6 separate regions of the Homo sapiens genome follow, and regions 1, 2, 3, 5 and 6 are each reported to be linked to region 4. The links are microRNA targets in miRTarBase. Many come from high-throughput screens and were not tested one by one. Region 4 holds a microRNA gene; each other region holds the end of a gene's coding sequence.

Region 1 (5,565 bases), not on the chromosome of region 4:
CCACTTCAGCAGGTTATTATATAATTACATGTTCACAGTTAAATTTATAAGTTAAGAGATTAAAGGAAAGTAGTAATAGCTGAGAGCAGTTTTTTTCATGAAGATACCAGATGTCAGCAAAACTAAGGCAGTGTCCTGAATTTTGCACAAGAATGTTAAGCTATAAGCAGGGCAAACATCATGGAGGTAGAAAACCTCTACCAAAATCCAGTCCAGATAAGACATCAGTTTTCTACATTGTGACTCAATGTGTAATCACCTTTTGGAGGTGGAAGGGGTATATGAGGCCAGTGGGATCTGATTTTTCAGGGCAGTCATAGCTCAAGGACTGAGCTGTTCTGGTTTTGTTTTTCTTGAAAACAGCCACCCACAACACTATTTAACAAACCAACCGACACTTTAGCCATACTCAACTGAAAAAGTAAAATGGTTTACAGAATATTTCATACTACCCAGGTACTGCAATACATGTTCAGGAATTCTGAACATCGATATTTGTGAGTACATGAATGCAGATATTTTTCTGGGAAGTTAGTTCATAGCTTTCATCACCTTCTCACAGGGGTCTTTTACTTCCAAAAAGTTAAGACTATAATAGAACTCACTAAAATTATGTTTTTAATAATGAATCACTGTATATATATATATGGATATTTCAAAATTCACTTGCTAAAAATTACTTGCTTGAAATCACGCCAGGGAGGCAGTTTTAGAGTAGACTGTCAGGTTGTATAACAGCCTGTTATATAGAACTAAACATAATACTTTAAAAAGAGAAGAATCCTATATATGATGTTACAAGGTAAATAGCTATTTCCATATTTTAAAAAAAAGGAAAAGATCACGAGATGACATTTTATTCAAATATATACATGCATTTCTACCTTAATATTTGTGACCAACATTGTGTGAGACCAACATTTGTGACCTAACTTCTCTACTAGGATCTACACACAACAGAAATTGTTTATAAAACTTTGCTTTTTAGATTAATTCTAAAATAATTTATAGTCACCTGGAATATTTATGCACAATATAAAGAGGCTCTAGATGATTTCATTATATTCCATATTTCTGTAATTTTATATTACAAAATAGTAAGTGGGCTCATTATTTAATTTTTCCAAAACATAGCTTTATTACAGCTTACTGTAAATCAGATACACCTTTCTCTGTAAACATTTTGTATGCTCATTAAAAGTTTGCTTCCCTAAATGGGCATGATGAACAAATATTAGCAAAATTGCTCAAGAATATTTTCCTTTGAAAAACGTATTAGTCTTTGAAAAATTACAGGTCTGTTCTAAAAAATGCTGCAATATGGCAATTTTAAAGTCATTCATTCCATCAAAAATATTCCTATTTTAAGTAAAAAACCTGATTTTAATTTGTCCCTACGAAAAGCCTAAGCACTGTCATACTTAGAAAAACTAAAAGATGGTAGAAACAATTAAGATCTAATGATCCTAATGTTCAGATAAAACTGGAGTGTTTATGTCCTCAATAATGAAGTATTTCCTTACTTTAGAGAAAGTAATCTAGCATCTGACTTAAGTGAATAAAGCTGAAATATTCTTTTGCCAGTGTTCAGGTAAATCATACAGATCAAGGAACTGACAAGCTAACTGTATGTACTTCTGGTAACAGGTGAGTGAACAGTTAAAATTATTAAAAATATGTAATTCCAAGGCTGAATATGCCATTCCCTCAAAGTAAAACCAGTCATTTTAAAAGCAAAAAAATTAAAAAACAAACAAACCCTCTAATGGTCAATTCAAACTGGCTGCATAAATTGAGTTTTAATGGCTACAAAATCTTTCAAATTGCTAAGAGCACATTTGATTTAACTGAAGGACTGTATTTAGGATGCAAAAAACCCCCCAAAACCCAGATTAGTGGCAATGTCCCATGTGACAAAAAGCTTTTAGACAAAATGACAGCTGTCTTTAAAAAAGTGCAAAGACCAAGGAGGGCAGATCATGAGGTCAGGAGATCAAGACCATCCTGGCTAATATGGTGAAACCCCGTCTCTACTAAAAATACAAAAAAATAAGCTGGGCGTGGTGGCACGCGCCTGCAGTCCCCGCTACTCAGGAGGCTGAAGCAGGAGAATCACTTGAACCCAGGAGATGGAGATTGCAGCGAGCCGAGATTGAGCCACTGCACTCTAGCCTGGGCAACAGAGTAAGACTGTCTCAAAAAAAAATAAAATAAAAGCAAAGAGACGATACCATTCCCCCATCCTCCAAATAGCATCCAAGCAAATTCCAACATCAAGATGCAATCAATTTCCAAAAAATTTATTTATACTCTGTATTAACCAGTGTTTCTCTTTTCCATCCTCACTCCCTAAGGAGTCTTTTTACAATCCTAATCAACCACCCCCAAAATTTTAATACCACAGATATGGTATCTGTTTAAGTACTGTGTGTATATTCATGCTTTATACATCAAGTTTTTGTCCCCCAGAACAATCTTGACAAGGACTGCGTGGCGCTAACAATGAAAAGTTTATAGTATTAAAACTTTTTTATTTGAATAAGTGGGGAGAAGAGAAATATATTTCAGCACTTAGATATATAAATTATTTCCAAAACAGTTTAATACTCAACTAGTCGGTTCTATCAAAATCAGTTTTCCCTGAAGTAAGCACTGTTCCCAGCTACAAGCGATCCTCATTTCACATGGTACTGTGGGACCATAAAAATGGTCCTGCAATCTTAATAATCAATAGGGAAAATGATGATTGTTCCATGACCTTTAAGGTTCTGCTCAAATATTAAAAACTCTTAAGACCAGTTATAAATGTAGAAAAAAATGCAAAAATGTTTAAAAATATTTAGTACACTGTAATTTAAAACATTAGAAATAGAATTAAAGTGTTTTATTTCATTGTAAAAACAAAGTAGTTTGAATAGGGCTTGCCTTTTTTTCTGGCAAGTAACTTACCATACTGAGTAAGCATCTTTTATGTTCACGGCAAACTGCCATACTCCTTCTAAGTTTGGGTCAGCTTCCACCCTTTTATTGCTTGTGCTTTCAATGTTGTGAAATATTTCTATATTCACATTAAATATCTTTTAATGTAAAGTTTTTTTTTTTTAACCATCACTTCCTCTGGGACGTATCTGTCTTTATTGCAACCACTTTGCTTATTTGTGTTGGTAAGTTTGCCTTCACTAAGCTCCTATGAATACACAGCAGCAAGAACAACATTCCCATGGTCAGTGACTTCTTCTACAAATTCATTTATGTTTGATTAAAATTTCACTTCCAGTGTTATCATTTTTCATTGCTTTGCTGCACTTTCATCTTTGTTGACCAGTTCTTTCGAGTGTTCACTTCTATAGAATGTCAAGTAGATGACAGAGAGACAGCATAACTACATGCTCTGCTGTACGTGAACTGAATTAACAGATGCACAGGGACAAACCACTGGAAGAATTTGAAAGAAATAACATGACTGGTCACAATCATGAAGCATATCTGTTATTTACATAGCGATTTGTAGACTGAAGAGCTAGCAGAGAGGTTTGTACTTCATGTAATTACTCAGTTACAATGTGCTAACTAAAATTTTAACCTAGATTTTAACAACAACAGTTTCCTTACCAGTTTTCTTTCCTTCCTGGTAAGGAAACTGGTATTTAAACTAAATCTAGGTCACTGAAATTTGTGCCCATGGGAAACATGCAAATAGAGGACTGCCTACACCCTACTTGTTTATATTGATCCAGACAGGCTTAACGCTGACTACTGAAAAATAGCCTATCTGAATTTATATCAAATAGTGAATCTTAAAGCACCCAAGATGAAAAATTAGGGCACACTGAGATGGTTTTAAAATCTTTGTCATATGATAATCAAGCTTAAAATGTATCTTAGAGTAACAGATTTTTAGAAATAAAGACCTTTAAAGGCTCCATAGTTTGGTACCGCAGATTATCCAGCATGTTTATTATGAATTATTTCTCCTCCTTCAATTTCAATTTGCTCATACAGCCACTTGCGGTCACAGCGGCATTCAGCTCCACACTTGGTAGAACCACAGGCAGGACAAGCATAGAAACATCCTAAGCAGTCTTCATCCAGGCAGTCACAGAGGTCCATCCCACTAAAAATCAGGAGACCCTGGCTATCATAGACCTTACTCTTTGCTGGTATCACTTGTCTGTAAAATAAAACACAATGAATTATACCTCATAAATATGTTATTTTTGATTTAATTGAAAATACAGTAAAAAAAAAAAAGGAGATAAAATATTTTTAGATGAGGTCATGCCAAAATCATCTATAATTTATCAGGCTCAAGGCTTATTCTATCGTCAGCAGTAAATGAACTCCATGTGAGAAGAGGAGACCTAACTCTATAGAGTGTTGAGACAAATCTAAAAATTCTGAATACGCTTCTTGAAGTGCATAATTTTCCCTTTACTTTAAACAAACAAAAAAGAATGACAGGTTAATAGTGGTTCACTTTATTAGCTACCAACCTCTTCACTGTTTTATCAACACAGTTTTATTTTTATTATAGTATACCACCTCTATAGATTTTTATACTACAATTAATGTTTCTTGTTCTTTAATGGACTCTAGTAAATTTGGCCTAAAAATATTTAAATGACTCAATGGTAAATTTTAACAGATGGAATACATGGCATATATAGAAATGTTGACTGAACTTAGAAAAAAAATTCTGAATGATTATATTAACATTTGTTTTAGAGTCATATTCTAAACAATTTAGTTCTCCCATTCATTATGTTGACTATACAGAACTGCATTTCTATTTCAGACATGTAAAAAATAAAAACCTTGCATTCTCATAAAATGTAATTACCTTTTAGCTGCTACCCATAGAACGGAGATATATGAATTACAGGCACATTTCGGAGGTATTGTGGGTTTGGTTCCAGACCACCCCCAATAAAGTGAGTCACACACACACACACACACACACATATATATATATATATTTTTTTGCTTTTCCAGTGCATATAAAAGTTAAGCTTACACTATAGCCTATTAAGTGTGCAACAGCCTTATGTCTAAGAAAAAAATGTATGTACCTTAATTTAAAAATGCTCTATTGCTAAAAAATGCTAACAATGATCTGAAACTTCAATGAGTTGTAGTTTTTTTGCTGGTGGAGGATCTTGCCCCAGTGAGGACAGCTGACTGATCAGGGAGGTCGTTGCTGAAGGCTAGGGTAGCTGTGGCAATTTCTTAAAGACTACAGTGAAGTTTGCTGCATCAGTGGACTCTTCTTACAAAAGATTTCTCTGTAGCATGTGATGGTGTTTGATAGCATTTTACCTACAGTAGAATGTTCAAAATTGGAGTCATCCTCTCAAATTCTGCCTCTGCTTTATCTACTAAGTTTATATAATCTAAGTCCTTTGTCATTTCAGTAATGTTAACAGCATCCTCACCAGTAGATTCCACCTTAATAAATCACATTCTTTGCTCATCTCTAAGAAGAAACTCCTTATCCATTCAAGTTTTATCACAAGATTGCAATAACTCAGTCACATCTCCAGGCTCTGCTTCTAATTCTAGTTCTCT
Region 2 (5,565 bases), not on the chromosome of region 4:
AACCCTTCCCAGGATTCTGCAGAGACATGGCCAAAGAGCAAGCCAAGAACTACCATGGCCAGGTGTGGTGGCTCCCGCCTGTAATCCCAGCACTTTGGGAGGTCAAGGCAGGAGGGTCACTTGAGGCCAGAAGTTTGAGACCAGCCTGGGCAATATAATGAGACCTCGTCTCTATAAAAAATTAGCCAAGCATGGTGGCGTGTGTCTGTTGTCCCAGCTACTTGGGAGCTGAGGTGGGAGGATCGCTTGAGCCCAGGAGGTAGAGGTTGCAGTGAGCCGGGATCACGTCACTGCACTCCAGCCTCGGCGATGGAGCAAAACCCTGTCCCACCCAGACCCCCTAAAAAAGAACTTCCGCCACCACGTGCCAGTTGTTCACTTCCTATCAGGCATCGTGCTGAGCTGTAGTATCTCATTTAATTGCCAGCCACAGTACAGGGAGGCAGTAGAATTGTTCCCGTTTAGTAAATGAAACTGCAGCTCAACAGAAGCAAGTAATCTACTCCAGGCCTCACAGCCAGCAAGAAACAGAGCTGAGATTCCAACCCATATCACTCTGAGTCTGCGAGAACGGCTTATTCCTTTGCAATGTGCCTAGCACCTCCCACCCTTTTAGCTCTTGCCCCGCTCTCCCCTCACCACTTCTCCAGGTTGGCTGACTCTGTGACTCTCTTGGCTTCCAGGTGATTACCTCGCCCAGGGCCTGAAGCTCAGCCCTGGCCAGGTCCAGACCTTCCTGCTGTGGGGAGCAGGGGCCCTGGTCGTCTACTGGCTGCTGTCTCTGCTCCTCGGCTTGGTCTTGGCCTTGCTGGGGCGGATCCTGTGGGGCCTGAAGCTTGTCATCTTCCTGGCCGGCTTCGTGGCCCTGATGAGGTCGGTGCCTGACCCTTCCACCCGGGCCCTGCTACTCCTGGCCTTGCTGATCCTCTACGCCCTGCTGAGCCGGCTCACTGGCTCCCGAGCCTCTGGGGCCCAACTCGAGGCCAAGGTGCGAGGGCTGGAACGCCAGGTGGAGGAGCTGCGCTGGCGCCAGAGGCGAGCGGCCAAGGGGGCCCGCAGTGTGGAGGAGGAGTGAGCCGGATGCCCCACACACCGCCAGTGTCATACCAAAGAGCTGAGCTGCTTCGGGGCCATGCAGCCCTCCTGCCAGCCCCCTGCCCTTTTCTTGCCCTGTCTCTGAACCTTCAGAACATTGATCCTTGCCGCAGCCCCACTAGCCAAGAGAAACAGAGAAAGACCATTCCCCCTGCCTGTCCTTGCGGCCCTGTCTTCTGAGGTTCTCTGTCTGGGGTTGGCTCTCTTAACCCTTTCTCTGCTCCCAGCCTGCCTCACCAGGGAAGGTTGGAGGGGCCTCCCTCTGGCTTCTGCATCTGCGCCAGCAAACATCACTGCCGTTGGTCTCTCATGACTTAACTGGCTTCCCTCTGCTGCTGCCTTGGCTTCCTCCTAATGCTCGTGCTCTCCTGTCCTTCTGAAGTTGCTCCTTGGCCAAATCTCCAGCTCCCTTCTTGTTTTCCTCATCCTCCTACCCTGTACTCCCACCAAACCATGGTCCTTTAAGGCACGCTCCTGTCCTCCTCATTGCCCAGCAGTAGGGAGGGGCAGGGGTAAGGGGACCTGAGGATAAAGGGTGGGGAAACAGGGTCCCCTGAGGCCTGTGGGGGCTGCAGGGGAGGAGGATGTACCTTGTGTCTCTTTCAAGTGCCTTAATCCGAGCCAGCAGGGCCTTCTGCTTGCCTGCTGCCATACTGTATGTAGGAAAGTGTTCTGTGGCTGCTTTGTGTCAAGAAAAGAGCAGTCACTCTCAGAATCTTGATTCCCCATCAGCCAAAGCAAAAGATGGCTGCTGCTTTGTAGGCATGTGCCTGCAAGTGGGACCTTGCTGGGCATTATATGCCCTGTGGGGGTTTCAGAGACCCTGAAAGAGGAGGGAGGACCCGCCTCCTTGTCTGCACAACTGCATGCACTTCTCTCCCCATCGCTCCACAACCTGAAACCGAGAAGGAGTTGCTGACCAGTGCCCACCCCGGCAGCCCGGGAGGAACACAGGCAGCTCCTTTCCCTTCACGTGGTCTGCAGAGAGCAGGGTGAGCTGCCAGCTGCCCCTCTCCACCAGGGTACCCTGTCTTGGTGGTTAGGGGCCACTTTTCCTTTGAGGCTCTAGTGGAGGTGGATGTCCTTCTCTGCCAGGCTTGGCACATGATGTGAAGAATAAATGCCCAATTCTTACTGTTCAGGTTTGATGTGGAATCACAGCTGCAGTGATATATATTTTTTATCAGTGCTTGGTTGGTTTTAAATAAAGTGCACGCTATTTTATTATCTTGTTCTGAATAAAATGTATTTACTCCAAGTCTGGATTGCTTCCATGTCTCCTCTACTGCTAAACCCATTTCTGTAGTGCAGCTCCGCCTCCCAATTTCTCCCTGTGGGGGCAGTGTGAAGCTGGCAGAGGGGAGAGCTGAAAAGGCAGGCTGGTACCAGGTACCCTTCCCTCCAGGAGCACAAGGAATTAGGAAAGCATGCCCCCATTACAAAACGTAGGAACGACTGGCACTGCTGGAAATGCGTGTGCTTGCTGGGCAGAGGGGTCACCCCTTCCCTGCAGTGTGCTGAGGTGGGTGGGCAGCCTGGAGAAGACTTGCCTGCCCTCCCCTTCACCACCCACCTGAGGACTTTCCTGTGCCAAGGTTTCCAGTCGGCCCACAGGCTGGACCAATTTTGCGGAGGGCCTCAGACATAATTTTTTCTTTGTAAGCTGCCCAGGGCATGAGAGTGTGCAGCTGGGGCCCCTGCTCTGGGCCTCTCCCCAAACTGCCTGGTAGGCAACACTGGGTCAGGACCCTTGAGGCTGGCCTTCCCTCGGGAGTGTTGGGCAACCCTCAACCCTCCTAAGCGCTGCAGGACGCTGCCCAGGTGGAGCTGGTCAAGAGACTAGAGCTGCCTGCACCTAGAGCCCTTCCTCCACGGCGGTGGCCTAGCTCTGTCAGGGCAGGCTCAGGTGGTTGGCATCTGGCCCCGTTTGACCCCCTCCCTCCTTTCCTGTCCCTGCAGCTCCCGTCCCATGTGTCCCTGAATTCTGGTTCTGACTCAGGTGTCAGATGCCTTCACAAGTGAGCTGCTTGTGGGGGTGGGTGAGGCAGAGAAAGTGGCTTTTTCTTCCCTGATCAGAAGCTTCCGTGAGGGAGCCACACAGAACTCACCGAGTCCCTCCTGGCAGAGGCGGCCGTCCTCTGTTGCTTCCAGGGACGTGGCCCTCTTCCCGACCTCGGTCGCCTGAGCGCGCAGGGATTGGGGATCCGTAGGGCACTAGGACCCGGCGGGGCGGAGGGGGCAGCCCATGTGCTGCGATTCGCTCCCTCCCACCCCACTGCTCCCGCTCCATTGTCTGGGAATTGCAGCCGCGGGGCGGGCGGCGGCGGCGGCGGCGGCGGCCGGGACCCAGCGGGCCAGGTGGGGACGGCGCGGAGCGGGTGCGGGAGATGCCGTGCGGGACTGGGGCCACCTGAGCCGCCCGCCTCGTCCCCGCCTTCTGTGGGAAGGATGTGCGCGCGGATGGCCGGTCGCACAACAGCGGCCCCTCGGGGGCCCTACGGCCCCTGGCTCTGCCTCCTGGTGGCCCTCGCCCTGGACGTCGTGAGAGGTCAGCGGGAGGGGAGGGCCGGGGCGAGGGGCGGCCGGGCCCGGCCGAGTGGGAGCGAGTGATGCCCGGGAGCCACCAACCTTTGGGTTCTCGGACTGAACCCTGAGCGGGGTCGCCCCGCAGCGCCCTGAAGGTCGGAGAGTTCTTGCCCTCGGGAACCTGCCCCCAGCCACTCGCCCCTAAGGCTTCCTTCACCTTGCACGACCCGGCAACTCCTTCCTGACCCGGGGCAGCCCGGCGCAGGGGCTTCCCCGTCCCGCACCTTCTGCGAGGGACCCCTCAGCCCGGGCATCGAACCCGGCGGCCCCGGTCCCGGGCGCACTAGCGTCATCCCCACTCCCTCACTGTGGTCTGTAGCGCTGCACCCTCCTAGCCTCCTTCCGCCGCCACCAACCCACCCCCCTCGGGAGTGGAAAGCAGCCCCTTTGCCTGGGACCTGCAACAGACGCAAGCCCTCCCTCCCCCTTCCCCCAGGGCTCCCTGACCTTGGCGTCTCCAGGGATGGCCGCATCCTTGCCTTCCAGAACCTTTGAGAGGATTCCTGTCACTGCGGGAAAGGGCAGCAACTTCCCTGTGCTTCGGGGTGGGGGTCGGACTCCCTTGGCCTGGGCTAGCTGGGCTGTGGCTGCAAGGCAAAGGATGCCACAGAAGACAGAGGGACAGTGAAACATTCTCTGCCCTCCCCACCGAGAGAGCCGAGCGCTGGGTGATGGGAGTCCGTGGGAGTCAGGCTAAGAGCATCTTGTAATTATGGAGGCAATGGAGTAGGAGGCGAACCTGAAGCCAGTGGCTGCCCCCAGAGAGCAGTGGTCACTTGTTACGCTTGGGGCAGGGGGCAGGGAGAGCCTGTCAGTCATATGCTCCTTGGTGGGGAGGGCCAGGAAGGAGGTTGAAACCAATTCCCCCACCCCCACCCACAGTCCAGCTGTGGGGCTGAGAGGGAGCTAGCTGTGGGGTTGCTTTCAGCCACCTGCTCCCCATCCCGAGGGACGCCATGGGAGTCCTAATAGAGAGAGGAGGAAAACCTTGTCAAATCCATTATGCAGCAGCAATAATGCCTGCTCCCTCCAGACAGCACTCCACAGTTTACACAGCCCTGTCCTGTCCACAGTGCCACCTAATGCTCCTGCCCCTTTTACAAGTGAGGAAACAGGCTTCAAAATGTTAATGCCTGACCCAAGTTTCATCAATTTAAATTCAGGTCTCCAGGCTCCCAGGAAATCCTCTCTAGGGAGCGCTTCCTAGTTTGGGGGAATTCCAGGATGAGCAAGACAGGGTCCCTTGTTTATAGGAAGATTACTAATTCAGAGGAGGCACCCAGGGTTGCAAAAGACAGGAGACTGGTGGGAAGGTGAGTAACCAAGGAGGGCTTCCTTCAGAAGGAGGCAGTATTCACTCATGGCCCTGAATGAGGAGGGAGGTGCCACCGGGCAGAGCAGAGGAGAGGAGGTGCGCTCCAGGGCATGAAGCCTGCAGGGTGCACCGTGGCAGTGGAGAGTGGAGAGAGAAGTGGCAGGTGGAGACGCCGGATGGTCTAGTGGCTAATACCTGGGATCAACCCCCAGCTCCTTCACTCTCCAGCTGTGGAACCACAGGCAAATACCTTAACCTCTCGGCCTCATTTTCTACATCCACAAAATGGGATTCATCATAATAGAACCTGGTTCACAGAATTATTACAAAGACTCAAAGAGTTCATATACATACAGTATTTAAATTCTCACCTGCATATAGCATTCACAAAATGCTAATTATTATTATTAGTGCTCATAGTTAGAGCAAACCAATATGGCTTAGTGCTCCTTTGTCCTTCTGATGATTGACTATTTTGACTGTCTTCCCCAGGCTCCTGGTCCCCACCCCACCCCCAGGGCAAGCAAGTGCCTTCACAGACCTCTTCAGCACCTTCCGCGCCCGCCCAT
Region 3 (5,565 bases), not on the chromosome of region 4:
AAGATGGATTGGAGCCAGATCGTGAAGGCATTGTATAACATACTAAGGTGCTTGGTCTTTATACTGCAGTCCATATGCGGATGAGTCATAGAAAGGGGGGAAGAATTTCAAGAATGACAGTCACATTCTGAGCTGACCAAGTTGTAAAAAGATCACTTTGGTAGTGGGAAAGATAGATGGGAGAGTAAAGACTGGAGACCAGTTAAGGAGACTAATTGTCCTGGCAAGAGTTGGGGAAGCCCTGGCCTATGGCATTCCCAGTGGGAATGGAACAGAAGGGACAGATTTGAGAAAGACTCAATAAGACCTTGCTACATTTTCAAACATGGAACATTGATGAACCGAGAAAGAGAAAAGTCTAACTTGGGCACTTAAGTAGATGGTACAATAATTAATCATGGAGAAGCAGGTTTTATGGGAAAGATGCTGAGCTCAATTTTGGACACAGTGATTTTGAAGACACAGTTGTTAAATTTATACAAATTTTTTAAAGACACTTTGAGACTTAGGTAGAGATAGATGTTCAGTGGGTAACTGCAACTTAGGCTAGCAGTTGGAGCTGGATGTATGTATACATAGATTTGGGGGTTAGAAATATGAGTATAGCCACTATATAAGTCTGGGGAGTGGGGCTAGTCACATATGCTACAATGTGAATAGTAGCCTGTTGTGGGGAGGTCCCTAGTATTTGGTGGCAATTGAAGCCATGGATGGGAATAAGATCCTCCAGGGAGTAAGTGTAAACAGACTGGAGAGAAGAGAAAAACAGAAGGTTGAGGACATAGCCCTGGGGACCAGCTGTTGTACGTAATGCTCTGGCCACACTAGAGTGGGTTTCATTTGCCAAGATTTTCTCCTCCCCAAGCTGTCCCCAGACATGGGTAATTTAGAACTAATCCAAGCACATCAAGAGGCTGGACAAGGTTGGTTTGGTCTTCTAGGCAAAGGAGGATTCATCTTTCACATGGTACTTGTCTGTGTCCTCACCCTTATCCCTGTTAGAGATCATCACAGAATGTAGTTCGTGGTCTGCAGCCAGCTTCCCTGGGTTCTCCAAGCTTCACATAGTCTGGTACTCAGAGAATTGTTCTGGCACCTGAAAGATGTCTTCACATCTCTTTAAGCCTGCCAGAGAAGGAGCCCCAACTATAAGCATGGAGCTAAATGTTTTGAAACATCTGGGCTGAATCACTTCTCCATTTTTCAAATGGCCTCTTTAGCACTGGCCTAGAAGTGTCCCCCATTCCCCCAATTTACCTTTCCAGTCCTGATTTCTAGAATCTTAGTGAAACGTCTTTCTTTATCCACAGTTCTCAAGGCAGACTTCCTGGAGATGAAAGTTGAGGCTACAGGTATGCAGTCCCCATCCCTGATTACAAAATCTTGTTCCACATAAGCCTTCATTACGGGATCTGATATTTTGAGGACTGGAATAACATGTAGATCAGAAGGGTGGGAACTCACTTCTACGCCTCAGTTCATTACTCTATCACTGCCTGACCCTTAAATTTAGTGACTTTCAATTCCAAGGTTTTGTGTGATTTTAAGTAACCTTCCTCTTTCATTTCTTTTTCTCCTAGCCAAACTATGGCACGCTTTTACAGATTGCCTTTGAATCAAATTTATTAAGAATCCTAGGCTGTGACATTTTGGGAAAGTACATTTACTTCTCTGAGCCTCAGTTTCCCAGTTTCTAAAATGAGAAGGTTGGAACCTTCTAACTCTGACACCTCTCGGGCCTTTAAGGAAACCAGGAACATGCTTTCTGATATTATAACAGATGCCAAGAGGCTACCTTAGTGTCTGTAGATGGATTCATTCCTGCAGACCAAATCATTATTTCAGTCTTACCCACCTGAACCTTCATTCTTAGTCCTTTATGTTTGTCCAATGCAAAGCACTTTCACATTCATTATTTCATTTGATGCATATCACATGCCAGGAGAAGGGAGGATAATATGTGTTCTAACTCAACAAATAAAGGAACTGAAGTTCAGAGGGGATAAGTGACTTGCAAAGGTCACAGGAGACTCAGAGGTCAGGGAAATTCCTTTCTCTATCATAGGAGTTCTGATTGTTTGACTATCAGATTGCTGGCATGATGTGACCTGATAACACACATAAATGAGATCCAAGTATCTGGAGCTTGGCTTTTCATGTGCTCCCTAACCTTCTTTTTTTCCCTGTCACTGCCAGTCCTCAGAGGTCCGTGGGTAGATAAGCTTCTCCTTATCAGCCCCTATGGAGGTGAAGTCCCTGTTAAAAGGAAGTTTATAGTTATTGTATGACCATAAAGGCAGTGGGCATGATGTGGGAAGAAATCTCAGAGGTTCTAGTATCAGGCTTCTATTTCTCCATGTAGATTTTGGGGAGTTTGAGTTGAGGTCAAAGGCACAAAGTGTCCAGCCCTGGTCATAGCACCATCTTAGGCCTGTTTCATGAGATTTGACTTGTAAGAGCCTTTGCCCAGCAATCCGCTGTTGCTCAGAAGATGAGCTACCAATTATAGGCTTAGCTACCTACCAAGAGAAGCCCCACTGATCAGTGGCTGTTAAGTACTTGACCAGTCCTCGCTAATTCCCTACTCTCTTCTTTCTCTTTCAGGTTTTAAAAGCCTTGGCCTCAGAGGACCCTTTCCAGGTTCTGAAAGAGTCTTTCTTCTTCAAACCTTTGTGTGCGGAGTCATTTTGTGTTGAAGAGCAGCTCCTTCCTAGCCTTGCACTTTCAGACTCTCTCTGGGAGGCCATAAAATAAGGAGCATATGTCCTAGACAGGTGTTTATATCTCCTTTGTATTCTGTCTTCATCCCCTCAGAAGGTCTGTTTTGAGTTCCTATAACACTGTGAAGAGCTGGACTCCCTCAAGCCAGACTCTGCCAAAACCAAGATATCCACTTACCTGAGTTGAAGAGGGGAGCTCAGTTTTCAACTCTTCCCTGAACTTCCTGCTTCCTCAGAGGGCCATTGAACTCTGAGAGATTTGGGGCTAAAGACTGATCTCAGGGGTCTTACCTTGAACTGAAGGCCACTTGAGTTGGGGCCATTGCTTACCTTGGTTGGAAGGGAATAGAAATGTTTGCTGAACATTGGAGAATCTCAACATGTCTCCTACTGAGGATATGGACACTGGTGCCATGTCAGCGCTCTGGTGCTGCAGTATGTTGCCAAGAGCCCGTCTGCTCCTGCGAGGCTATGAGTGGGATGAGTGATGCCCCCACAGCACCTCCATGTGGACTTAGGAAGGTGGCCTTCCTGCTGTTACATGCAGCCACTTAGGACAAATCTGCAAAGCATGTTTTGCATGTAAAAGCCTAGGTCTATTTGGATTATTCTTTCTCCTTTTTTTTGACAGCTTCCTGTCAAGCAATCAAGAAACAAACAAAAGCTGAACACATTTCTTTTTAAAAAAAGGAGACTGTGTTTGGTCCTGTAGGAGTTCTATTTTGGGGTCAAATGCTAGAAAAATTGTTAAGGTGGATTGAGGCCAGGCAGCTGTCACTGCTGCTTCATGTTTGCCTTCTGCACATAAACTCTTTTATCTCCTGAAAAAAGCAGTTCTTAACCCAGTGTCCATGGACTCAGAAACTCCATGATGCCCCTGAGATGGTATGCACAATTCCATGACAATATGCCCTTTCTGGGGAGATAGTCCATAATGTTCTGCTAAATTTCAAATGGGCTCGTGACCCAAAAAAGTCAAGAACCACAGCACTTGAGTAAAATACTCTTTTTACAATCCATATAAGCCCTTGATTGGAAGGGCTTTTCAAAATCATTTAGTCTAACAACTGCCCAGTTTCCAGTCGGGGGAACTGAGGCAGAGCAAGGTAGTGATCACACCAGTACAAGATCTCAGGTCCCAGGCTCCTATGCAAGTTTTTTTTCCCCATTATATCACACTTATCTAGCAAGGGACCTTGTGGTTTGTGGCTTTAGTGGCCATCATTTCTGGGGGTTGGCTTTTACCCTTTTTCTTGAATATTTGCCACCAAGTGAAAAATGTTAGGACATAAACCCTTGCCAGGTCCCTTTCATTTGCTATCTCTATTATTGGAAAGGACCTAAAAATTGGTGTAATGGGGCAGAAATCTGAGGAATGGACATTTCTAATTCCTGTTTGTTGAAGGGAAGTTGCTGGAAAGAGCATCAGTACTTGTTTCTATGCAGATGCCTGGGCCGTAGCTTGTCTGTAGCGTCTGTATAATTATAATGTTGCCCAGTGTGAGGGAAAGAGCTTTCCTACTTGCACTCTTCTACCAAGGCCCTGTTAGTGCACTGATTATAGTACTGACAGATAAACCTAGATAAAGAGATAGAGAGTGAGTACATGCACACTCATGTGCAAACCCACTCAGAGATGCATTTGGAACAGTGCTACTGAAAGGCAGTAGTCATTTTCAAGACTGAATTCCAAACATGGTTTATTGGTGAGTTAGGAACATGTAAGGCCAAGTACACTGAGAGCCTTTTTGAAAGTAATTGAGTGGAAACTTGATGCCATTCTAAATCAAGGCATATCCAGGTGGCCCGGTTGAACTCACTCCACTGTACCCAGTCTCAAAGGCCAGGTTGCTAAGAAACCAGGAGTAAAAGAGTCAAGTGACCATCATTTCACCTGCTGCTTGCCCCCAATAGTAGTCTCTGTGAGGCCTTACTGACCTCACCTAGGAAGTGATTTTTGAGCCCTTGTTTCAGGGCTGTGGCCTCCCTGCTCTATCCTGAATAAAGCAGACAGGTGTGCAGATTTTGGCCATGAAAGCATGGCTAATAGGGCCACAGTCCCTTTAAAGAAACATGGTTTGACTCTGGTTTTCTTGGGGGAAAATACCACAATCACCGATGCAAACATTGGAAGATTATTGAGAGCCCTAGAAAGCTGCTGTGATCCCAGTAGAAAATATGTCCCAGAAATGTCATGAGATTGCTGTGTGTTGCCTGGGACACAGATCAAGGGCCTATCTTGGAGAGCTGGGGACCAGCAGTCTGCCTGGAGGCCAGGGAGCAGTGGCTGAGTAGCTCTGCCTTTGCTCTGGTCTATACCTTAAGAATGCCAAAGAATGAATTTCAACGCCTGCCTTTGGCACTCTGACTTAAAGTGCAAAAAGCTTCTGTGGCGAGGCATGCTATCATGGAATGAGACTGGCTTGCCCTAGGCTTAATGGATGGGCAGTCATTTTGCAGAGGCTATGGGAAGAGGGTGATAATAGAAGAGTGGCAGCTATAGGAAATTATCAACATACCTTGGCCAGCAAGTTAGAGAATCTGGCAATGGATGAACTGAAAGTGATGAACTGGCAGGGATAACAAAGAACCTAACATTTATTAAGCACGTATTTATTAACTGCTCAGTGTTTCATATTCATGCAAGTATTCTCATTTTACAGAGAAAGAAATTATGGCCCAGGGGGCTAAAGTAAACAACTCAAGGGCACATAGAAAGTAAATAAAAGGACTGTGATTTGAATCCAGGCCACTCTTAGCCCATGCTGTTTTCCCTTTGCCACACTGTGGTAGGTGTTTGAACAGAGGCCACATTACTAGAGTTGGCATGACTCTTGACTCTTGC
Region 4 (4,000 bases):
AGATTGAAAATGAGCTGCAGAACATTCAGTCTCCTCAGATTTAGACCCTACATATTAATAAGTCACAACAATAGTATTGTTTTCACTCTTCTTACAGTCTATTTACCATAAGCAGCTGCAGAGATATTACCAAAACAAAATATGTCATTCCCATTCCCCACTCCACTAAGCTTCCAGAGGCTTCCAGTTATACAGAGAGCATGGCTGCTGGGATGCATTATGATGTGGCTCCCCTTCTAAGTCTTCTCCTAATCCACCCAGCCTTGTGGATTCCCAGTATGTTCCCACCATACTGGCCTTTCTGGTCAACTCTACAAAGCTCATCCCTACTTCAGGGCCTTTGCACTTGATGGTGGTCACTTGCCTGGAATACCCTCTCTGAGTTCACTCCTCACCTTTGGGTGTCAGCTCAAGTAATATCCTTCTCTGAGAGGCCTTACCTGACACTTGCTCCCCTCACTTCATCTCACTTGAATTCATTTTCTTTATAGCATCAATTGCTGTCTGGAATTGTTGTTGCTGTTTACTTGTTTATTGGGTGTTCATGAGGGCAGTGTTTTGTCTTATTCCTGGAACAGTCCCTGGTAGGTGCTTAATAAATAATTTTAAAAATTATGTTGTTGAAAGAAATTTATATGGAATTAGCAGCTAAATAGCAAACTTCTAAATTTATATGGAATTAGCAGCTAAACGCAAATTTCTTCTCTGAGTTTGGAAAGTTGATGATCTTAGTTTGATCCTATGGGAGAAAAAGGAAGACAGCAAACAAGAGGCCACGATTTTTCTTTTGATGCTTCAGAGGGCCTATGTACTCAAAGTCTACAGTCTTTTAGTCCAGAAACTCTACATCCTCAGTCCTTGTTTGGTGGCCTGAGAGTCTCCGAGTGTTTTTCTGCCTCTATATCTCTGTCTCAGCCTCAAACAGGAAGTACTGGCTCATTTCTTCAAGATGGTGTGCATAGGATTAACATGTGGGGGTGGTAGGTGCCCTTGTTTGAGGGTTAATAAATATTTACGCACTAAAGAGTCTTGGTCTCAGACTGGTTTCTAAAACAGGCCAGTCTAGCCCACCTCTTCTGTCTTTTGAAGAATGAATGGTAAGATTAGTCAAGGTTTCTTGGCAGACAAACTTTCCTAATTTGAGCTATGCTCAGCAACTGGCCTTGTTGCAGAGACTAAGAAGAGAAAAGGCCCAGGCTTCCCAGCATCTTGCAAATCATCTTTCAGAGCCTGATGCCCTAGGGTTCCCACTTTGGTCACCTGGGCTCTCCTCTAAGTATAATAACTTGGTTTCCCAAAGATGCTCATCCTGCCAGACACCTATTCGTTTTCTTCAGAGGAGATCAATACACAAATAGCTTTTAGAGTAGCAACTCTACTGGGGTCAGGGATCGAAGTCTTTTATCAAGAGGGGTGTCATGTTTTTGGCTCTGACAACAATAAACCTTTGAGCTGTTTCTCCTCTTAGGTTAAAGTTCTTCCAGGAAGAGAGATTTATTTTTGTCATGCAGCATCTAAACATTCCTTATCCTGGTTTGGATGCTATGCTGAATTAACACTTTGCATCTCTAATATGCCCGTCTTGGAATTATCTCTATGTTCTGTAGTGAAACACTGGATCCTTTCCTGACTAGTTATTGCAGATTTTATTAATTTACTTACCCTAGAAATTGGAATCCCATTAAAATTTTAATAGAAGGTGTTTTTAACACAAAAAATGCCTTCTAACAAAAATTCAGGTTGAAGCTGACCACTATGAAGAAAAAAATAAGAATTTGTGAGACATATCTTCCCATATTCATATGGCATAATTTGGGGGAACCATGCCAATTTCATGTTGCCATGGTATGCTTGGGGTTAAGCTTTTATTCCATCACAAATCACTTTAAATTTGATTCATCTAAGTTTTGGACATTTTATTGGCATCAATCTGACTAAAGAAACAGTTAGGTTTCTAAAAATATCATAAGATTGATTCGGCACCTAGGAGTAGGGGGCAATTGGAAACCAGCTAAAGATGCTACAGGATCAATTTCCTTATTCAGGAAGACCATCTCTTTGGAAAAAAAACTTATCTGACTCCATATTGATCCCCTAAAAAGAGAATTAAATTTACATATTTGGTTACTGTGATTTCAGAGGTGTCAAGATAAGTTATTCATGTAAGCGAGTTGTTTCCACATGTTAAAACTCTGTCCAAGCAGCAGAAAAGTGCTTTCTGGGACTCAGAAGGCAGCGCTGGAAACTGCAGGAACATCTACCCCAGCTGTGAGCCTGCCATCAGCTGGAATTCACTAAATTCACTATGCCATTTAGAAAGACACTCCTAGCTGAAGGTCATACTTCCTTGGGTCTTTTCTCAAACCTGACTTTCTAAAGACTGCCCTAGTTTTTTTCTTCCTTCACCTGACCTCAGTGAAAACTACAATAAACCTCAGCGGAATTTCCACATGAGGAAGCAGTTGTAAAAGGAATTCTGGTACTCAAGTTCCCATTGTGGGCCCCGTGAGCTGAAGGAAAGGATATGCGGGCTGGGGAGGCAGGAATGGAGATAACCACAGAACCAGTTCCCCAAGTGGCTGCAGCCTGCCATGCACACTCTGACAGCCAGTTTGAGAACAAGCCCTGCAGAATGATTTGAGGAAGAATTTTTTTTTCTTTTTAGAGGAAGCAGGTGGGGAGAGTGAGGGAACTAACATTTAGTGCGGTTGGGGAGCTTTAAGGAAATACCTATGCTCCAACCCCATAGACTCTGCTTCGGATGACTTGGAGAGGAACTCAGGCACAGGTATTTTAGAAAGTGTCTTAGGTTTGAACCAAAATAAACAATGTCAGTATTGGATTATAAAACCAATAAAATAAAATAAATATCCATGAGTCCATGATAATTTCAATAAATAACTGAATAAATAAACAAATAAATGGAGGAGAAGAAACAGCATTTCAAGACAGAAAAATTCCAATAAACAATGTAGAAAAAATGAGGGACTAGGAAACCATCCTCAGAACGTTGCAGTAATTGTCGCAGGCAAGATGCACCAAATGAACAGAACATTAATGGGGAAAAAGATGAGGAGAAATAGGCTACCTGCATAACCTGAAAGTATCTCTCCCAAGTTATTTATTAATGACAAAGGGAAAAATACTATCTTTACAATAGGTAAACCCAGCAGACATTACCTTAACCAAGTGATGAAGGTTAACATTGCCAGTAATAAGACGTATGGACATCACATACTTCCTGTTATGAGATTCTGGGAAGGGCCTATGGCTTCTGTGGTATCCTTCTCAGTAATGCATAACCTCAATCTAAGCACAGGAAAACATTAGATAAACCCCAAGTGAAGGACATTCTATGAAATACGTGACTAGTCCTCATCAAAAGTGTCATGAAATGCAGGGAAAGCCTGAGGAACGGCCATGGATTTAGAGACTGAGGACACCTGATAAATAAATGCAAAGGGAACCTGGATTCGTTCTTGGAGGACATAAAGGACATTAGTAGAGAAACTGGTAAAATCTCAATAATGCCTGTAGTTTAGCTGAGCATTATACTCATGTTAATTTCTTACTTTTGATAATTGGACCATAGGAATGCAAATCCGCATTAGGGGAAGCTGGATAAAAGTTATATGAACTCTCAGTATTATTTTTGCAACCTTTCTGTAACTCTAAAATTATTTGAAACAAAAATAAACATATTTTTAAATAATACATATCATAACAACAAAGCTTTTTAGAAGATTCAAATGGTGGAAAGCTCCTTGAGATTCTAATATGCAGCTAAGTTTGAGACAACTGATTTTGTAAGTACCTGCTCAGCTTCTGCGCTTAACTGATGTGATCTCCTTTACATCCTCATCAGCCCTCTGAGGCAAGTATTGCAGCTCCCATTTGATAGGGAGCATCTGATACCCAGGGAGACAGTCCACTGCCTGGCTTTCAGCACACAACCTGACTTATTGTCCATCCAAGCTGCTGGACTTGACTATTTCAGCTC
Region 5 (5,263 bases), not on the chromosome of region 4:
ACTTAGAGTAAGCCTGCATACCCTTGTGTAATAGAGAAAGGCTGTGAATCCACAACTGTTTTCTGAGTGCCTACTACACACCAGGAAAAAAAGTTAAGATTAAAGGTGGCATCGGGTTTCAAAAATTAGTTGCAGATGGACCCAATAATAAGGGTGAGCTGTCTCTACCTTCTTTCCTCAGATTCCAAGAAGACTCCCAGCCGACCAGGAAGTCGAGCTGGAAGCAAAGCTGGCAGCAGGGCCAGCAGCCGCCGAGGCAGTGATGCATCAGACTTTGACATTTCAGAAATCCAGTCCGTGTGCTCAGATGTGGAAACTGTCCCCCAGACACACAGACCTACACCCCGAGCAGGTTCTCGGCCATCCACAGCGAAGCCTTCAAAAATCCCCACGCCCCAGAGGAAATCACCTGCCAGCAAATTGGACAAGTCCTCAAAGAGATAGTGCAATTGGTTCTACCAAGGCCCTTCCTTGAGCATTTATTATTTAAGTTTGAACGATGTAAAATATGGTGTAGAAATTCTTGTGAAATATTGCAAGAGGCGAGTTTAAAATTCTGCAGATGGCCTTATTTGTGTATTTGTCTTTTTATTTTATCTGTATAATTTTTTTTGTCAGATATTCTGGGGTTAAAGTCACATCATATGTGAGGAGGAAAAGTTTAACATGAACTAACATTTCTGCACTGTAACGTGCCGGGCACACACTAAACTCAGTTACTGTACCTACAGGTAAGTCTACATCCTCTCTGACAGCCACAGCACTACATCAATCCCTGACGTTAGGGATACCTCATGACATTTTCCTGTTTTTATGGAAACTCTGAGAAGCTGAATGATACATGCAGGGGATATTTTTTGAGATGATTTAAATGTAAACCAAAAGATGGAAGACAAAAAGACAAACACACCCACACGCAGTCTTTGCAGTATCTGACAGAGAACTCACAGGAAGTTACTTCAAGCACTTGCCAGTACTATGATATTCAAGTACCTTGCAGCATTTCTCTGCCATTGCTTTCAATGAGGCCAGAGGCATCCTGGATATTAGACCTATTATACTGTAAGAATATAAGTATAAAGTGCGTTCATATACATGTGAGGTTTTCTTTTGCTTGAGTGGACAGTAGCACCTGTATCATTGAACTCATTTTGTATCAGAGCAATTTTGCTTGCAGAAAGCTATGAAATAAAACACGTCCCTTAACTGCATTGCTATGGAATTAATTTTTTTTCCCCAGGGAAAACTAGTGTATTTTTTTATGAGCAATATCAATTTGGAGTGACCAAAAGATACTTAAAAATGGGTTTATTTTGATTTCTCATCTGAAATAATCATGTTCTGGTATTATATCTATCTATATTTAATAAATATATACATTTTAATTTATTATGTGTACTCACATACTATAGAAAGATATTAGTATGCATTTAATAAAACATATTCACTTGAATATATGGAATACCTGATTATTTAAAGTGAACTTCTTCTATTATTTGTTTTAAATAAAGGTTATATGTATGATATATGTTTACTAAGAAACAAATAGGGTAAATTTGGGGGACATCAAAAACAGGGAGTTATAATAATGTTAACCACTCTTTCAACAAATATTTCTAATAAGTATTAGCCATGCACCAGCCATTGTAAGTGACATGAAACTATAAGGTTCCTGCCCTCCCCTCTTCAAGAGGGAATCAGTTAATAAGTCACTAAAAAGCAAGGGATGTGTGGCAGGATTACAGATTTAATTAAGGTAATATAGTAGTATTCTTCTGGCCTCTGTACATTTAAAAGTCAAATTGTAAAATTTTCCTGAATATGAAAATAGTATCAGATATCCTCAGAAGGATGGCAGGTTGTAACTTTAGGTATGAGGGTCCCAACATTCTGCATAACTTTGTGGATTTGCTGTAGCAAATGTCACTGATGGTGTTCAGATTCAAGGGAACATTATTACATTTTTCTTTCTTGGCCTTTTCAGTGGAGGCCAACACTGAAGAGCCTGGAGTTTCTATTGGCATAAATTAGGTGCTATTTTTAAGCAATAGTAATCCCTTCTTTGTCCAGGCATGGGTCTCAGGTGGGAGCCCTTGATGAGAAGGGGAATTCTAACCTATGAGATCACATGCTATTTAGTTCATGCATTTGATTATTAACATGTCATCTTAGAAGGCAATTGAAATTGTTTTTATTCCTTTAGTGCTTTGCATATGATCACATTTCCACTTCAAAGACAAATTTAAGGCAATGATTTTTATCTCAGTCTGTTTCTATGCTACCCCTCCGAAAGAGCTAGGGGTTTTTCTTTTTAAGTAGTAAAATAAGCTTTTTGGAAAAGATAAGTGGTTTAAAATAAGAGAAGTCTTAAGGAACTGCTCCCAGTTGTCAGTATTTGCCCCAGGTGAGCTTTTCAAACTTTGACATGATGCCTACTCATTTCTTTCCTCTTGTGCTAATAGTCCTAGAGCCTCAGGCTGACTTCTCTAGTGTCCTGTAAGTTTCAGTTAATGTAACAGAAACCTCTTCCCCACCCTACACACATTCCTTCTCTTTTCTTTTTCTCTTTCTTTTTTTCGTTTTTTTTTTTTTTTTTTTCTTTAAAAAAAAGAACACTACAGTGAATCTCAACTCTAAAAATCTTAATTGGAAAAATTGAATCTTAAGCATTAGGGAAGTTGAATCGTGGACTTTTTTTGTTTTAAAAATCAAAGCTCCTAATTCGCATGTACTGCTACCTTCTTTGGAAATAGTGGACTGTCCTCTTTGACATCCGTGCAGAAGTAGATGGGCCTGGCCAAGTCTCGGATATAGGTGGGAGAGTTTGGGAAGTGCCCCCATGGCTGTCCGGGATTGACCTGTAAAATGAAAAGGAGGCGGAGGAGAAGAAAGGATCTTGTTTCCTTTTTTGGATCATTTTAAAAGTTGCTTTCCGTATTTGTAGTAAGGGAAATTGTAATGAGATACAGTTATCTATTCCTTTTTGACAAGGTGCTTTGAAATGTGTGTTTTTATTGTTAAATGGTGATCTGATACCACCAAACAGTACATTTGCCATGCCTGCTTGTCTGTGTATGTCTGATGCCACTGCCACTGGGGTCCCACAAAGAAGGCAAAGACACTTGAGCTTTGTCTTTTAGTATAATACTTTAGTAACTAAGGTCCTTTCAGGCATGTTGAGGATGGACTTGTCAGTTACCAAAATCTGCTTGGAAGTCAGTAGAGTAAAGGACAAGGTGTTTGGGCAGGAAATAGTTTGTATGACTATTTGAAATATCTGACTTAACCTACCAAACTCTGCAACTTTGGTTGATTTTATGTAACTCTTAACGTCTATGTAGATGTTGAGTGTCTAGCTAGGGTGAAGTATAACAAAAATAGGTTTCTTTTTTTTCTTGCTACTACTTCTCATGTGCTAAGTTAAGAATATATGTAAAGCAAAGTGTGTTAAGGGAATAATATTAGTTTACCCACATTTTTATCATACTTCATTATTGCAAATTAAAAGACTTTAACAGAGAAGAAAATAAAATAGAGGTTAAGAAGTTTTCAACAATTTCCCCCAAATAAAAATAAAACATTCTTTTAGAATGTTACTAATCTTAAAGTACAGTTATTTTTGCCCCAGCGCAAAGACTAGGAAATGTAGTTCCCACAGCCTTAGACTCCAACTTCTATGCCAATGGCCTCTAGACTTCTTGGTTGGCATCTTCTTATCAGTAAAAGTTTTTCTGTGCAAACACCCCCATATATATATATATTAATTTATCCCAAGATATTATTTGCACATATTTTATCATTAGCTAATTTCTCAGGGCTCACTCTAATCTTAAAATTTATCCTAACAACATTGGTGTACATCCTTAGTTCAAATAGTCTTCATAATTATTTTGGCCAAGTTTTTGCCAAATCAGATGAGACTCTTTCTGGTTTAACTCCTGGTGTGGCTGAGTTTTGCCAAATCAGATGAGATTCTCTCTGGTTTAACGCCTGATATTTAACTCCTTTGTTCTAGGAGAAGCGTTGTCTCTGCCATTTTTCTTATTGCTTGTTTGTTTCTTGCATTATAAACATCTTAAATCCACGGTTCTGTTGCAGGGATCTGTTTAAGCCTTTTTTTTTTTTGTAAAGATTATTTAATTCAGAAGAGTTAATAAAAATCTGTACATTCACCCAACTTGACATAAATAAACTTCGGTTTGCTGCATGCTAAAAGCAACCCAAAGAGTGTGGGAACTGTTGGGACTTCCACTCTGCCCTTGGGTCACCTAAGCTACAGATCGTGAGAAGATGCAAACGATGTCGATGTCACTGGAGAGATGGTAGCAGTGTCAGTCTGTAGTAAATGTTAGTAAAGGTAATTTCCTCCTCTTTTAAGATGAAATGTAAATATAAATAGACATTTTCTTCCAACATTCTATGAAGTTACTTTACATAATCTAATTTTAGGGATCATTGTTCTATACTATTTTCTTCTTTCTGCCTCTTCTCAACCATCTTTTTCCAGAGAATGGAAGTATGCTGTAAAGTTTCTTCCTTTCTCCTCTGATACTAGTTTTGCAAGGGCATGCACACCTGTGCTAGTGGTTATATCACTGATTGCCGGTTCTCTGAAAATTCCAGTTGAGGGAGGCTGAGGGGACATACTAACATTCTTGAAGCCTCAGTTCTAGTTCCAGCCCTTGTTACCTCTCACTTGTATTACTACAACGACCATCTGTTGATTTCCTCATTTTCAATGTCTTCTCCTCTAGACATCAGCTTGGAGGAACTGGTCTTATGGGGAAGGACGTGCCTTTTGATATGAAGGACTGGAGGAAAGGGAGATTGAAATGGGAGAAGAGACATTGAGGGAGTTACCCTGCACTCTTTATTTATCTCAGTAAATTGGAAGACAGATTTTTGACTTGACCAGAGAAGGTTAGAAGTAGCCAAGGCCCTGGACTGATAGTTATCCTGGCCTCCAGTGTATGGCCTGGTTTAGGAAGAGAGGTGACAGAAAGTTCATTGATCTACAGTTGGTTTCTTCAGTCAGGCTCAACAGAGCAATGGAAGGAAGCGGGGGCTCTAGGATGGGCTTTTACCTCAGAAGCAGGTTTTAGGGTACCCAGAGGAAAGGATTTGGGAGGAAGGCACACCGTGGGTGAGTATTTGGGTCAGAGTGGTAGAAAGCTAGAACACTATGCTTGCACACACAGGAGTGTGTATATGATCAAGAGTGACTTATATTTGGGGCATTATCTAAAATTTGCAAGAATGTGAA
Region 6 (5,565 bases), not on the chromosome of region 4:
AGGTAATTGTTTAAATGTCTTCTCAGCTTCTCGGTGAACTACTACTAGATAGACACAACTTCACAATTATGACAAAATACATCAGTAAACCTGAGAACCTCAAATTAATGATGAACCTGCTGCGAGACAAAAGTCGCAACATCCAGTTTGAGGCCTTTCACGTTTTTAAGGTAGAGTACTAGAAGCATCAGTGATACTGTCCACTGGAATTGTTCGTCGTCTTTCATTCGCAAATAACGGAAATTATTAGCCTCACTCTGGTAATCCAGGTGACTTAATTAAATTCAGTCACTTTTCATATTTGTGTGCTATGACTTTTAAACAGAAAGGTAGACCTGGAAACGGGTTACTGTTTGGATCTGGGAACGAGAAGGTTTGTTCATAGAAGAGTGTCATTTATCTTTGGCCTAGAAGATTAGTAACTGCAAAACAAAAGCATTTCTTAATGCTTTCTGTGGAGGTTTCATTCTTAAAATCCCATCTGACCTCTTGTGCTGAGAAATAATTTCTGCCCATTTTATTCTAAAATCAAAGTCTGTATTTAATACTAAACACTGTGTTGCAGGGCTGGCAGAATGAGTTTATCAGTCGTATTTGTGTTAAAACATGTAATTATTATTTTTTTTTCCAAATTGTAAAATAACGCCTTCTAAAGCAAAACCTAATGACCCTGACTTCAGCGCCATCCCAGGAGAGCACAGCTCTGCTTTTCTGCACTGTGGCCGCAGCTCAGGTGTGGCTGCGTTTTGTCCTTTCTCTGTGCCTCATGTGCGTTTCTCTCCACGCAGGTGTTTGTAGCCAATCCTAACAAGACGCAGCCCATCCTAGACATCCTCCTCAAGAACCAGGCCAAACTCATAGAGTTCCTCAGCAAGTTTCAGAACGACAGGACGGAGGATGAGCAGTTTAACGACGAGAAGACCTATTTAGTTAAACAGATCAGGGATTTGAAGAGACCAGCTCAGCAAGAAGCTTAATCTCCAATAAACATCTATGTTAAATCCAAATTCAGCATTTGCTGTTAGCTATTCAGCATCAGGCACTCTTATTGATTCATGAGGAACATTACTGCTAATCTGCTGTTAAGTGAACGGTTTTTCATTTTACCCTTTTGTTTTTCAGTCCAGGTTGGAGATCGTAGCTGCTGCTGCTTGCACACTAGGGCACATGTGGGCTTTCTCTTGATCTTTGTGTCATTTCAGAATTCAAAGACTGTGCTACGGGAGTTCTGAACATGGCTGGGTTCATGAAGGCAAATGTATGGATGAGAGTGTGGTTTAGGAAAGAGGGCACTGATATCAGATTAGACCTATGTGTTTGCACCCATCTTTGTTGGCGATCTGAGTGCAGTGTGGCAAGTGCACACCTGGCATCCCTGCGTCAGATCGCGCACCTTCAGGTCGCGCACCTTCGCTGAAGGAAGATGACGCAGAGCTTTATCTGAAATCAGAGGGGAGCTATCCAAAATGGGAGTTTGGGGGCAGCTAAAGTTGACATGCGAATAAATTGATACTGAAACTTAGCAACTTCTTAAAAGTGTAAAGAAGCCTCATAAGATCATAAGGAAAATGTATATATGCTTTTCACAGCTTTCTAGAATTTTTTGACATTTGATTTTCTTGAGACTTGTAAACCTGGATATGTTGAAGGGTATTTGTTAATTTTACTTTTCAAAGATACTTTAAAACAGTAGAGCTAGCAATGACACCTTGCATTTCATTTCAACACTGCTTCAAGGTTTCTTTTGTATATAATTCTTAGAATGCTCATTTCTTTTAAATGGTTTAATTTGTACAGCAGAGGAATGTTATTGTAGTAGTATGTAACTATTACCTAATACTGAGTTTTTGCAAAAAACAATGAATGCTCATATGTAATTGAAATACTTCAGATCACATGAAAATGCTGATTTAACATTTAAGTATCACAGCATTAAAAGAAAAAGAAAGTAAACCAGTCCTTTGTATTCAGTTACCTAATGGGGTGCCATCAATAAGCTGCGATACAGCCCTGGAGCTCAGTCAGCCACACCTTCCTGCATCCTATTGGCCTTATTCATTTTAAATGAGTTAATGAATCTGCCAGATCTGTGAATGATAGAGATTATGCTAAATTAATGCTGATTCTTTGTGTGTGTGGGAAATCTCTGTAGAGCACCTTTTCTTTCTTAGACTAAGTAACCCAGTACAATAGTTGTGAACTGAATAATTAAAACTTTGGCTTCTCTTAGGAAAAGACGACTTCCTAGTCATAGGTGTCCTATGGGGAAATTTATTTTTTTTAATGTCCTGTTCCTTAATGCTGCAAATTATCAGTATTTATAAAGTAACTGATTTTGCACCACTTTTTTGTTACTGTGACCACGGCAGAACAATGTCTTCTAGACTATATCTATGTAAAGTTATTAGAATGGTATCTGTTCATTTTAGTGATATGAAGATCACAACTAACAACTGACAAATCAGAGTTTGCCAGTTCAAATTCAGCATGGCTGCAGCTGATTAAGAAATTGATATGATTATTCTTTGCTAGCCTCTCTTACTAATGGAATTATATACTGGCCAGTAAAATGGGCCTCCCAATTGCTGTTTCAGCAGGTTTTAAACCTTCAGGAACACCAGTTAGGAAAATAGCTCCAGAAAATATAGATATATTTTATTTTTATTAAAATGGCAGTCTACATCATAATTGGCATTTCTCAAGACTGTCTTTACCAGAATCTGTGTGAAATAAGGCAATCTAGTCTCCTTGAAAAAAAAATCTCTTGGATGTTTAGGAAGGAAGACTTGGCCGTGATGTGGTGTCCTGGCTTTGTGGTGTAGTGCTGTGTGTATGGAGTTAGTGTAAAAACATGGATTACACCAAGTGGAAGAAACGTCTTCTTGCCAAGCTCATTCTTAGAACTTACACATCTAGAACAGCTTCCACTTTGGCAGTGAGGTCGTAGCCTTTTAGGTGGAAGAAGTGAGGGTGCAGCGTGTCAGACACAACATTCATGTTACTCTTACATTGGAATCTGAAGGTAGTTCAGACTTCGTGGGTTTTGTTTTTAAGCAAAACAATGTGAAAACATTTAAGTTTGAAATGTTGCATTTGAAGTTATGATCATTTAATATATTCATATTACCAAGACTATTATACTGGAAGTGGTTTTTGTGTTATAAAGGTTTAATTTTACATAAGGCAGTTACTTAATGTGATTTTTAACCCTTAAAAAAGTGGAGATGTATACATTTGTTAACAATGCCATGAAAGCATTTTCTTTCTCCTAAGGAAAAGTGAATTTCTTATCAGAATATCTGGCTGGCCCTGTAATTTAAATTAAAATAAAATTTTGGAGAAACAGCATTGTCTGTCTTTATGATGTGTTATAGACAGTTGCATTTGTGTTACTGTGAACAGCTTCATCAGGAGACACACAAGCCCGAATTTTATCACCAACTGAAAGTGGAGGGACAGTTAACACCCATTCCTGTCTGCCTTTTTCCCTGTTCAGGGGCTTCACTTCCCCCCCACCGCCCCCGTGCTCATGTTTTCCTTACCCTTCCTGAGTAAAATCACACCTTTTAATGGTACCATTTCTTAGACCCTAACGTTTGAGGAGTAGATCCTCTCTTGCGCTGTTAGCAACACCGCGAGGCTAAACTAGAACACTCGGCCCGGAGTATTCACAGGTTACTGATGTGAAATGATCATGAAGGCGAGGGGACCGTGGAAGCAGGCACAAGAACTCTGGCACCGTAAAGAATGTCCCTCGTCTGCCTTCCAGGGTGCCTCGTAATCCTTAGTTCACAGCCCTGCCCTCGACTTTAACCCCTGTCAGTAAATGAAATCTTATTCTCTGGAGTGAAGGCAAGGGACATGCTCTTGCCAAAAACACTTCATCCGAATAACAATGTCCTATTTGTTATTTCTGTCAAGTAGTTCAGTCTACTTGTACGTTGTAGTTCCCCAAAGGTGACAAGGGCCCATTAAGTCATAACTTGTGACTTGGCCACTTATAAGGATCACCAGGCTGAGGACTGGATTCACGCTTCAGCTCAAATTCCACTTCCTACCACAATCCCCCATCAAATGCCCTCCTCCCCTTGCCAAAGAAGCTCCAGAACGTTGCACTTCAGGCAGCTCAGGAGTAGTGCAGTTCTCACCCAGCCTTCCTAGTTAGGCTCCAACAAGGTCCTGATCGGGAAGTGCTCTGAGGCTGCAGTCAGTGCCCAATACCTTGTTCATGCTGGAGGTTAGAGCCACTCACGGTCATGAGAAAGCCCACCTGCCAACGTGCCAAAGTTGTCCTTTAGGGGAAGAGCGGGCAGCCCAGCACACACCGCCCTTCAGGTACTCCCGGATGTGTCAGGAATCTTCTCCCTGGCCATGGCTGTGTCCTCACTGACCATCTGGTTTCCAGAAGACATGAAGGACAGGGTAAGATTCTCCCCAGTCAGCAATCTCAGTACTGCAGAAAGACCCACTGGAGCTTTTCTCTACGAATACCATCCGCTTTCACCCGTTGACAGTCTGCTTGCGGTCAACCAGCACACCTCCGCCACCGAGCACTTTAGACCCAAGAAGTGCCTAATAAGGATCTTAAGCTTTCGAACCTCCAGGAATCCTGCCACCAGCATTCACGCTGACTGAAGAGGATGGTGGTGGTTGCACAAGGCTGTGTCACTGCACAGCTATATGAGGCCTTCATGTTGTGTGTGCCCTTACAGTGTCCTCTAAAACCTTGCTCATGTCTGAGAACTGGCAGCCAAGTGTCCGTCCCCACTGTGGCTGGAAGGTGGGGTAGGTTCCACCTGAGGGCACGTCCGCCGGGAGCTAAATCTCCAAGGACCGTGACCCCCTGGTTTCTTTTCTTTTTTTATTTTTTTATTTTTTTTTTTTGAGACGGAATCTTGCTCTGTCGCCCAGGCTGGAGTGCAGTGGCGCGATCTCGGCTCACTGCAAGCTCCACCTCGGGTTCACACCATTCTCCTACCTCAGCCCCCTGAGTAGCTGGGACTACAGGTGCCTGCTAATTTTTTGTATTTTTTAATAGAGACAGGGTTTCACCGTGTTAGCCAGGCTGGTCTCGATCTCCTGACCTCGTGATCTGCCCGCCTCGGCCTCCCAAAGTGCTGGGATTACAGGCATGAGCCACCACCCCCAGCCAGACCCCCTGGTTTCTATGCAGAAGATTTCATCCTTTGCAATTTGTTAAATTTTTATTATTTTTTCTAGGTAGCACTTCAGTAGTAAGACAGACCCCAGAGATTTCTGGAAAAGAGTGACATTTTTTCAACATTCTGCACAAGATTGACAGGTTTTACAGATGAGCTTTAGCTCACAAGAGCCCCTTTCCCTTGGTAATAATTTATTATCACCTAAATATTGGTGTTCCGTGGAAACAGCATGGTCTAGCACTAAGTTTTGGTAGCTGAGTCTTGTTTCCTTGAGATGCAACTGGCGTGCAAAGGCAGGAAGAGCCGCAGGCCAGCTGGGGAGGCTTCTGCCCAGAGGAAGTTTCCAGGCAAGACTGCACCCCTGATGGCTCCCTCTTTCTTCCCCGTGAACTGCAGCATGAAG

The links. Region 4 holds the annotated microRNA hsa-miR-7156-3p (CUGCAGCCACUUGGGGAACUGGU, at 2,563-2,585, opposite strand). A microRNA usually pairs through its seed, bases 2 to 8, with sites in the 3' UTR of a target mRNA and lowers its output. Matches are read on the target gene's strand: a 7mer-m8 pairs with bases 2 to 8, a 7mer-A1 pairs with bases 2 to 7 and ends in A, and an 8mer does both.
Region 1: miRTarBase lists ARL14EP as a target of hsa-miR-7156-3p. The part of its 3' UTR that is shown has no 7-base or 8-base seed match.
Region 2: miRTarBase lists TMEM109 as a target of hsa-miR-7156-3p. Seed matches in the 3' UTR shown: 7mer-m8 at 1,663-1,669.
Region 3: miRTarBase lists OPHN1 as a target of hsa-miR-7156-3p. The part of its 3' UTR that is shown has no 7-base or 8-base seed match.
Region 5: miRTarBase lists DST as a target of hsa-miR-7156-3p. The part of its 3' UTR that is shown has no 7-base or 8-base seed match.
Region 6: the mRNA of CAB39 is a reported target of hsa-miR-7156-3p. Seed matches in the 3' UTR shown: 7mer-A1 at 2,301-2,307 and 7mer-m8 at 2,490-2,496.

The regions. Positions count from the first base shown.
Region 1 is chr11:30,335,173-30,340,737 of GRCh38, reverse strand. It overlaps ARL14EP (ARF like GTPase 14 effector protein), which reads right to left. Exons shown (of 4, transcript NM_152316.3): 4 at 2,515-4,171. The coding sequence ends at 3,943. Among named protein-coding and RNA genes, the nearest start is that of ARL14EP, 15 kb to the right of the region's middle.
Region 2 is chr11:60,921,091-60,926,655 of GRCh38, forward strand. It overlaps TMEM109 (transmembrane protein 109), which reads left to right. Exons shown (of 4, transcript NM_024092.3): 4 at 684-2,353. The coding sequence ends at 1,075. TMEM132A (transmembrane protein 132A) reads left to right here and starts at 3,370. Exons shown (of 11, transcript NM_178031.3): 1 at 3,370-3,643. The coding sequence starts at 3,544. LOC124902676 (a long non-coding RNA gene) reads right to left here and starts at 4,307. Exons shown (of 2, transcript XR_007062688.1): 1 at 4,129-4,307. RefSeq lists silencers at 3,266-3,625, 3,686-3,905, 3,946-4,015.
Region 3 is chrX:68,044,203-68,049,767 of GRCh38, reverse strand. It overlaps OPHN1 (oligophrenin 1), which reads left to right. Exons shown (of 25, transcript NM_002547.3): 24 at 1,311-1,352; 25 at 2,605-5,565. The coding sequence ends at 1,344. Among named protein-coding and RNA genes, the nearest start is that of NXTAR, 260 kb to the right of the region's middle.
Region 4 is chr1:77,058,765-77,062,764 of GRCh38, reverse strand. MIR7156 (microRNA 7156) reads right to left here and starts at 2,622; the gene lies at 2,563-2,622. The region is part of intron 4 of ST6GALNAC5 (ST6 N-acetylgalactosaminide alpha-2,6-sialyltransferase 5); the gene reads right to left.
Region 5 is chr6:56,454,186-56,459,448 of GRCh38, reverse strand. DST (dystonin) reads left to right here. Exons shown (of 104, transcript NM_001374736.1): 104 at 182-1,453. The coding sequence ends at 444. Among named protein-coding and RNA genes, the nearest start is that of COL21A1, 210 kb to the right of the region's middle.
Region 6 is chr2:230,817,728-230,823,292 of GRCh38, forward strand. It overlaps CAB39 (calcium binding protein 39), which reads left to right. Exons shown (of 9, transcript NM_016289.4): 8 at 27-170; 9 at 789-3,348. The coding sequence ends at 977. Among named protein-coding and RNA genes, the nearest start is that of ITM2C, 44 kb to the right of the region's middle.